Homo sapiens: one gene and its partner. The protein of the gene in region 2 interacts with the protein of the main gene of each other region in a biochemical or structural test. Each region holds a gene or a part of one and is shown on either strand. Other genes may lie near its edges. The genes, in order: PEX5 and MPV17.

Evidence for each region.
Region 1: the proteins of MPV17 (region 2) and PEX5 interact in a test that uses a peptide from one of them, tested with the Homo sapiens proteins (one large-scale study listed by BioGRID).

The regions. Positions count from the first base shown.
Region 1 is NC_000012.12:7,192,386-7,196,200, forward strand, and holds part of PEX5 (peroxisomal biogenesis factor 5), read left to right. Parts: intron 1-3,815.
Region 2 is NC_000002.12:27,308,919-27,313,339, reverse strand, and holds the end of MPV17 (mitochondrial inner membrane protein Mpv17), read left to right. Parts: intron 1-230; coding exon 231-346; intron 347-567; coding exon 568-660; intron 661-750; coding exon 751-846; intron 847-1,093; coding exon 1,094-1,126; intron 1,127-1,388; coding exon 1,389-1,441; intron 1,442-3,358; coding exon 3,359-3,428; 3' UTR 3,429-3,848; downstream 3,849-4,421. UniProt on the Homo sapiens protein: Non-selective channel that modulates the membrane potential under normal conditions and oxidative stress, and is involved in mitochondrial homeostasis.

The DNA of each region.
Region 1 (3,815 bases), on a different chromosome or scaffold from region 2:
ATGCTATACTGTCAGGCCTGCAATTTATCTTCTTTCTTGCTTTGCTACAGACTTAAAGGTTTCAGCCTAATTTTTCCTCTTTGAAAGCATCCATTGCTCCTGCATCTTTTATGATTGATTCTTCTTGCCCTAAGCCTATCTAATCAGGTACATGGTGGGAAGGGCAGTCTCTTCAGCTTTCCTCTTCCTGATTGCTCTCAAAAGTTAGCCTTTTTCCTGTTTAAGATATCAAGAATAACAAGAGATACACATAGAGAAAGTTACCAAGTTCCAGGATCTCGGGGAGTCACATCATCATGGTTCCTGAATTTTTCTGAGATGATTAAAGGGACTGAATTGGTTTCTACCCCCACCATTTTAATTTATGTTCTTTCTTCGTTTGCTACAGATTTCAAGGTCTCAAGTCTAATTTTCCTTGAGAGCATCCATTGCTCCTCGCATCCTTTAGGATTGATTCTTCTTACCCGAAGCCTATCTGATCAGGGACAAATGTGTGTGAAGGAGGCCCATGTTTAGGATGGGCTTCTCCGCACACAAGAGAAAAATCCCAAATCTAAAAACTAAAACTCACCTTTAATAAGATCTGTGGGTCTCTTTTATCACGTGTCTCTTTCCCACCCATAAGTTGGAGTTAAGGTAGAACAGTAGGTGCTCTTGGCTTTAAGAGTGCTAATCACTTTATCTTCTTAAGCTCATTAGAACTTCACAGTAACAGTAACACAAGGTGGATATCCCACCCCCATTTTATAGATGAGGAGACTGAGATTTGGAAAAGTTAAATACTTTGTGCAAAATCATTGAATAATAGAGATGATATTCAAACTCATGTCTGTGTGGCTCTTGAGATTCTTTTTTTTTTTTTTTTTTTGAGACAGGGTCTTGCTCTCACCCAGGGTGGAGTGCAGCGGTGCAATCTGTACGCACTGCAACCTCTGCCTCCTGGCTTCAAGGGATTCTCCCGTTTCAGCCTCCTGAGTAGCTGGGACTACAGGCGTGTGCCACCATGCCCGGCTAATTTTGGTATTTTTAGTAGAGACAGGGTTTCACCATGTTGGCCAGGCTGGTCTTGAACTCCTGACCTTAAGTAATCCACCACAGCCTCCCAAAGTGCTGGGATTACAAGCGTGAGCCACCGCACGCGCCCTCACGTTGAGATTCTTTGTGAAATTGCCGCAAGTTAAAATCTGAACCATAGCAAAGACCCTCTCCAAGACAGAAACTCAGTTTTTCACATAAACCTTAGACTTAAGTGCTATCTCTTATCACAGAGAGGCTTCTGTTGTAATGTGGGCATTAGTCATTTTTGATAATTCAGAAAAATCATTGCTACTATGAGCGTTGAGATGGATGAAATTTTTGCTGTAATTACCTGAATTGCATGCAGCCATTGAAATCTTCCTTAACTTGAAATGAAAAAGAACTTTAGAAAAACATGTTTTATCTGTCTCACCAGTTAAATGCTCTTAGTAGAGCTCTTCTAGTATTTTGTAGATTCTTTTGGAATCGTGCCTGTTTCACAGAGGCAGAGACATGCAAACCTTAGAATGGGAGTTGAGCTGTTTGAAGTCTGCCTTCATAAAAATGTCTTATTGCAGCAGTATATTGCTTTGCATGTAGTAGGCCTCTGGTATTGAATGAATGAATTGAGATCTGGGAGAAAAAGCTAAAGGAAAGGAGTTCATTTTGTCGTAACTGACTTTTTTTTATTATCCTTCATTTTTAATTACAGCATTTGTGGTTGATACAATTGTATGGGTTAGCTATGGCTTTATAGATAAGTAGATTTTGAGATGAAAGAAGGTTATACTTTTTAAGTTCTTATTTTAAAATCTCCACTGTTAAGAGTCAAAATCAAGTTTAAAAAGAATGTTGCAGCTCAATTATTTAAATTTAAATTTTTTATTTGGAAGTACTTAGTTTCACTGGAAGTTGAAAAAAAAAATGTATAGGAAGGTTCTGTATACCCTTCACCCAGTCTCCTCCAGTGGTAACATTTTACATAGCAGTTATGCAGAGATCAAAAATCAAGAAGTTGCCCTTGTTTCAATCCTCAGAGTTTATTAGGTTTCACCAGTTTTACATGCCCTTATTTGTGTGTGTGTGTTTTTTGCAATTTTATTAAATGTGTAGATTTGTGTAAGCACCATCATGATCAAGATACAGAACTATTCTCTCACCACATGAAGTTCATTTTTTTAGCTTACCTTATTTTGTAATGGAATCCCCCCGTCTTAAATCTTCTGGGTCAAATAATTCTCCATCTTGTGTTTGCTCAGATCTAGAGATAAAACACATCTTCAGGGTTCTTAAATTTAGACAGCTTCGGTTGACATGGTATGTGAGGTTCATATGATAATCGTGAGAGATAAACCTGCACTTTCATGGGAAAAGCCATGGATAGCAGTAGCAGAAGATAATTGGCAACAGATCTTTTCTGGATGTTGGAGGAGAGGCTTTGGAATAACAGTCTCATTGTGATGTTTTCTGCTTTTGTTATAGGTTTGCCATGAGCAGACTAATGATAATAACTAACATTTGTTACTGTATTCATTGGTTTTCACCGCAGCCCCTACTGTTATCTCTGCTTTAAAGATAAGGACATGGAAACTTAAGAAGGTTGAGTAACTAGTCTGAAGATGCACAGTGAATAAGTGATGGAGTTAGGATTTAAATGTGGGTAGACTGACCCTACAACTTGTATTCTTCTCCACAGTGCTGCTATTTAGCAGACACAGAAACTTTCATGAGTAAGAGTAGCAAGTTCTGAGTTTTTGACTTTTGAGCTTGGGGAAGATGTGCCTAGAAGGAATGAGTAAACAACGAGAAATTATATGAGGTGCACATTTTGAGTGGGGTATTTGGTGTCTAGGTTATTCTCACTCTACTAATCTGTATGACCTCAGGCAGTGCATCCCCTCTGTAGACCTTAGTTGCCTTGATCTCAGATGTATCCACATGGATCTGATTTTCTGTAGGAATTTCTCAAAGATTGTGAAGGCAGTGTGTTACTCTTTTGATTCTTTCGGTTATTTGACTCTTGTTGGAGTAGGTTCCCAATGCCAAGAAATTCTGGGTCTTGTGGCGATTTAATCTGGCCAACTACCAAATTATAGGTATTTGAGGATAGTTTTTCTCAGCTCTGGGATTTTTTTTCTTAAACTGCCTCATATCTATTGTTAAGTCCTCATGTCTGTTGTAAAAATTCAAAGGTGCTTTGTGTTTTTTCTGTTTTTTTTTTTTTGTCCTTGAGAGGACCATTTCATAGGAATTTGAAATGTTTTCTGTGAATTTGAGGAGCACTTATGGCCAGAATATGCTTTTGCAAAATACTCTAGTTGAGAGTTAGAAGTGTTTGGAGAGTTGAGGAGGTAGTAGTTATTTTTCAACAGAATGGAGCTAAGAATTTCAACTAAGAATGGAACTAAGGAACTAGGAGATCTTAAAGTCTCTTTGAGTATTAAGCATCTCCTTTCCGTCTCCACACTTGAGGCAACAGTCTAATTGGGGCAAATGGAAGAGAAATGCTTCCTGTAAGAGCTAGTGAGCAGAATCTGTATTTAATTTTTGAGAGTCCTTGAAATTAACAGATGGATCTATGGTCAAAAAAAATTGCCAACCATATTTCTTATTACATTATACATTATATATTATATATATTATATATACATTTTACATTATATATAATGTATATATAATGTATTTCTTATGTTATAACGTATTTCTTATTACATTATGTTATATATAATGTATTTCTTATTACATATGTTACATATAATGTATTTATTACATTATATATTATATATAATGTAATATAT
Region 2 (4,421 bases):
GACCTGGGTCTGCTCATCCCAGTTTCTGACAGAATACACATGAGGTGTCACCATCATTGGGGAGGTGAGGGCTTTGAGGCAGCAGGAAGGGACTAGTCATTTGTTTCCACAATGAAGCCCTGGGGTTCAGAGTACCAGAGCCTCAGTGGAGGTCAGCAGATGTCCCTCCCTCCTTGGAATGGCAGCCCATCCCAGGAGATGTCCTGACAACACCTGTGTACCCTGCATAGGGTCCCTGATGGGCCTGGGTGACATTATCTCACAGCAGCTGGTGGAGAGGCGGGGTCTGCAGGAACACCAGAGAGGCCGGACTCTGACCATGGTGTCCCTGGGCTGTGGCTTTGTGGTAAGTTCTCCCCTCAACAGGGCTTCAGTGGACTCAACAGTGGTCTTAGTTCTTTGCCATCCTTTGGCTTCCCTTGGACTCTCACACCTAAGCCAACCTGCCGCCCTCTTTTTTCTTAGTGTCCACTTCCCCTATTCTGATACTTGGGGCAGGGAGCTTAGTGAGGTAGAGGCCTAGGGCTCCCTCACTGCAGCCTGCTGCTATCTGGGGTTTACTTCCAGGGCCCTGTGGTAGGAGGCTGGTACAAGGTTTTGGATCGGTTCATCCCTGGCACCACCAAAGTGGATGCACTGAAGAAGATGTTGTTGGATCAGGTGAGCAGGAGAACAGAGTGGGGAGGGTGAGCTGTGTTGGGGGTAGGTGGGGATTTCAGCACTCATAGGACTTTAATTTCTCTTCCCTAGGGGGGCTTTGCCCCGTGTTTTCTAGGCTGCTTTCTCCCACTGGTAGGGGCACTTAATGGACTGTCAGCCCAGGACAACTGGGCCAAACTACAGCGGGTGAGCTGGGCAGGTGTGGAGAATGTCTCTGGCTGGCGGGCTGACAGCCCAGGGGAAGAAGACAGGTTTTACAGGGATAAAAAAGGGGGTAAGTGCAGGTAGGGCCCCAGGCCATGGAGGAGAGGAGCTGAGGGTTATGGTGCAGGAATGTGCTCTTTGAACCCAAGTCTGTGTGTGACATTCATACTGGGAAGTGGGAGCTGCTTGGAGGCGCAAGTGTTAATTTGTTCCTTCTCTGTCTCCCCAGGATTATCCTGATGCCCTTATCACCAACTACTATGTAAGAGCTGACACCTCAACTGCTTGTTCTCCTGCTTCCTTAAGTCTAGAACTGTCCTGGGATTGGGGGGTCCTCCTGACATGGGAAACCCTTCCGTTGGGATTACTCTTTCATTCCCAGGATGGGCACCATAAATAGGGAAGCCATCACCCAACTGTTCACCTTTTTCTTGTGTGCAGAAGTTGGGGTAGGGCCAGGCAAGACAGTGAGTCTGGGGTCAGGTGGTGGGGCAGCCATCCAACCTTTACATTTTCTCTTGCAGCTATGGCCTGCTGTGCAGTTAGCCAACTTCTACCTGGTCCCCCTTCATTACAGGTATGTTGCACCCCTACCCCACCCATCAAGGAAGACCCACGTTACCAACAGTTGGAGACAAAATGATTCTCATTTCAACCTTGAGCTACCTTAGACCCCCAAACGGAACACTGAGCCGTGATCAGAGTTCCTCAGATTCCCAAGCGTGTTATTCAGAATGTCTTGCCATTTCCGGAAACTGTCCCAGAGTGTCTGCCCACTGACCTTCTTCATCTCCCTAGGGAGGATCCTGCTTCTACCACCCTTGTCTCCATCCCACCTGAGCTCCGTCTTTGATGGCATATCTGGAGGGACAGTGGCTGGGGTGCTGCAGCCTAGGTTAGACAGAGAGGTAGACCAGAAGGCCAAGTAGGAGCCTGGTCAGACACTCACAATAAAGACAGTTGCTGAACTGCACCCAAAAAGATAGTGGCACTGAAGATGTGTGGTTCAAATGCTTGAAGGTGAAGGATCGTGGGAACAGGGGAAAATATGGAACGCTTCAGAGGGAACAGGGCCAAAATGTACATGAGTAGCATAGCTAAAACGAATACAGACTGGCTGGGCACGGTGGCTCACACCTGTAATTCTAGCACTTTGGGAGGCTGAGGCAAGAGGTTTGCTTGAGTCCAGGAGTTTCACACCAGCCTGGGCAATATAGTGAGACCTCATCTCTACAGAAAATACAAAAAATTAGCCAGTCACATGGTAACATGTGCCCGTAGTCCCAGCTACTCGGGAGGCTGAGGTGGGAGGATCACTTGAGCCTGTGAGATGGAGGTTGCTGTGAACTGAGATTGTGCCACTGCATTTCAGCCTGGTGACAGAGTGAGACGACCCTGTCTCCAAAAAAAAAAAAAAAAAAAAAAAAAAAAAAGGCTGGACACAGTGGCTCACGCCTGTAATCCCAACACTTTGGGAGGCTGAGGCAGGTGGATCACAAGGTCAGGAATTCGAGACCAGCCTGGCCAATATGTTGAAACCCTGTCTCTACTAAAAATACAAAAATTAGCTGGGTGTGGTGGCAGGTGCCTGTAGTCCCAGCTACTCGGGAGGCTGAGGGAGGAGAATCGCTTGAACCTGGGAGGCGGAGGTTGCAGTGAGCCAAGATCTTGCCACCGCACTCCAGCCTGGGCAACAGAGCGAGACTCCGTCTCAAAAAAAACCCGAAAAAACAAAAAAGGAATACAGACTTATGAACCAAATCCTAAACATTAGGGTCCTTTGCAACACTCTTTGAAACCAGAGCAAGGTTAATTTAAAACAGAAAGATGCTACTTTATATGATAGTCCGTACATTTCGGAAGATGAAATCTCAGCTGGTACAAGACAGATCAATGAACTTAGAAGGGGCCCAGATAGGGGCCCTTTCTGTGATTAACAGAGCTATGCATGGCAAGAGAGCCGCTGAATATTTAGCCTTTGAGGCTCTCAGCCAGGAAACAGAGCTCTGGGATGGCACTAGAATTTGAGCCAGTTGTCCTTTAGTGCAAGCCACACAGGCCCTTCATAGGGTGCTGAAAGGGCTGGGTGTCGTGGCTCACACCTGTAATCCCAGCACTTTGGGAGGCCGAGGTGGGTGGCTCACTTGAGGTCAGGAGTTCGAGACCAGCCTGGCCAACATGGTGAAACCCTGTCTCTCCTAAAAATACAAAAATTAGCCAGGTGTGGTGGAGCACACCTGTAGTCCCAGCTACTTGGGAGGCTGAGGCACGAGAATTGATTGAACCCGGGAGGCAGTGAGCCAAGATTGTGCTACTGCACTCCAGCCTGGGCAACAGAGGAGACTCCATCTCAAAAAAAAGGTGCTGAAGGAAAGAGACCTAAACCTGCCAATCCTTTGTCATGATCCCTCCTTTGCCATTTCATGCTCCCATCTCCAGCCCTTGCTCACTGCTTAGCCTTCCTCCTCTTCATTGTGTTATTCCTGTTCCTTAGGTTGGCCGTTGTCCAATGTGTTGCTGTTATCTGGAACTCCTACCTGTCCTGGAAGGCACATCGGCTCTAAGCCTGCCTCACTCCATCGTTTCCACCTTGCAGTGATGCAGCTTGACCCTGGAACGGTCAGACAACCTCCTCAAAGTGGGCATACCAGTTTCCACGGGGTTGGGTTGCCGGTCAGAGCTTAAGAGGACTAGCACCCTGCAATGCCCCTCTTCACTCTAAAATGTACACTGACTGCTTTAGAGCCCTTGATAATAGTCTTATTCCCACCACATACTAGGCACTCCATAAATATCTGTTGAACCTTCATGACCTTATCAACTTTACACCCATATCCCAGCAAATGCCACTCATCCCCACTCTTCATAGACACATTTGTTACTCTAACCCTGCCTAGGCTTCTTGTAGCTCCAGCTCTTTAGAGACTCCCGGAACCCTTTATATGGTGCCTCAGTAAATATGTTATTAAATATGTAATCCGGAATCTGCAGTGGTAATGAGTAAGTTTTTAAGCAGAAAACTATTGGGGAGTCATTTCTAGAGCTGGAAAGAAGCCAAGAGACCACCAAGCCCAATTTTTTTTTTTTTTTTTTTTTTTTTTTTTGAGACAGGGTCTTGCTCTGTCTCCCAGGCTGGAGTGCAGTGGCGCGATCTTGCCTCACTGCAGCTTCCGCCTCCTGGGTTCAAGCAGTTCTCCTGCCTCAGCCTCCTGAGTAGCTGGGACCACAGGCGCATACCGCCACGCCCGGCTAATTTTTGTATTTTTAGTAGAGATGGGGTTTCGCCATATTGGCCAGGCTGGTTTCAAACTACTGACCTCGTGATCCGCCTGCCTCGGCCTCCCAAAGTGTTGGGATTACAGGCGTGAGCCACCGCGCCTGGCCAAGCCCAGTCTTACAAATGAGGACCCTGAGGTTGGTAGGAGGGAGGTGACCTGTCCACACCAGGAGTTAGCAGAAACTTGAACCCATATTTCTTTGCTGCTCATGGGCAGAGTTACACTGCTGCTATGATTCCCAGGAGAGAAACTGAACTTTGCTAAACTACTTTGGCAAAC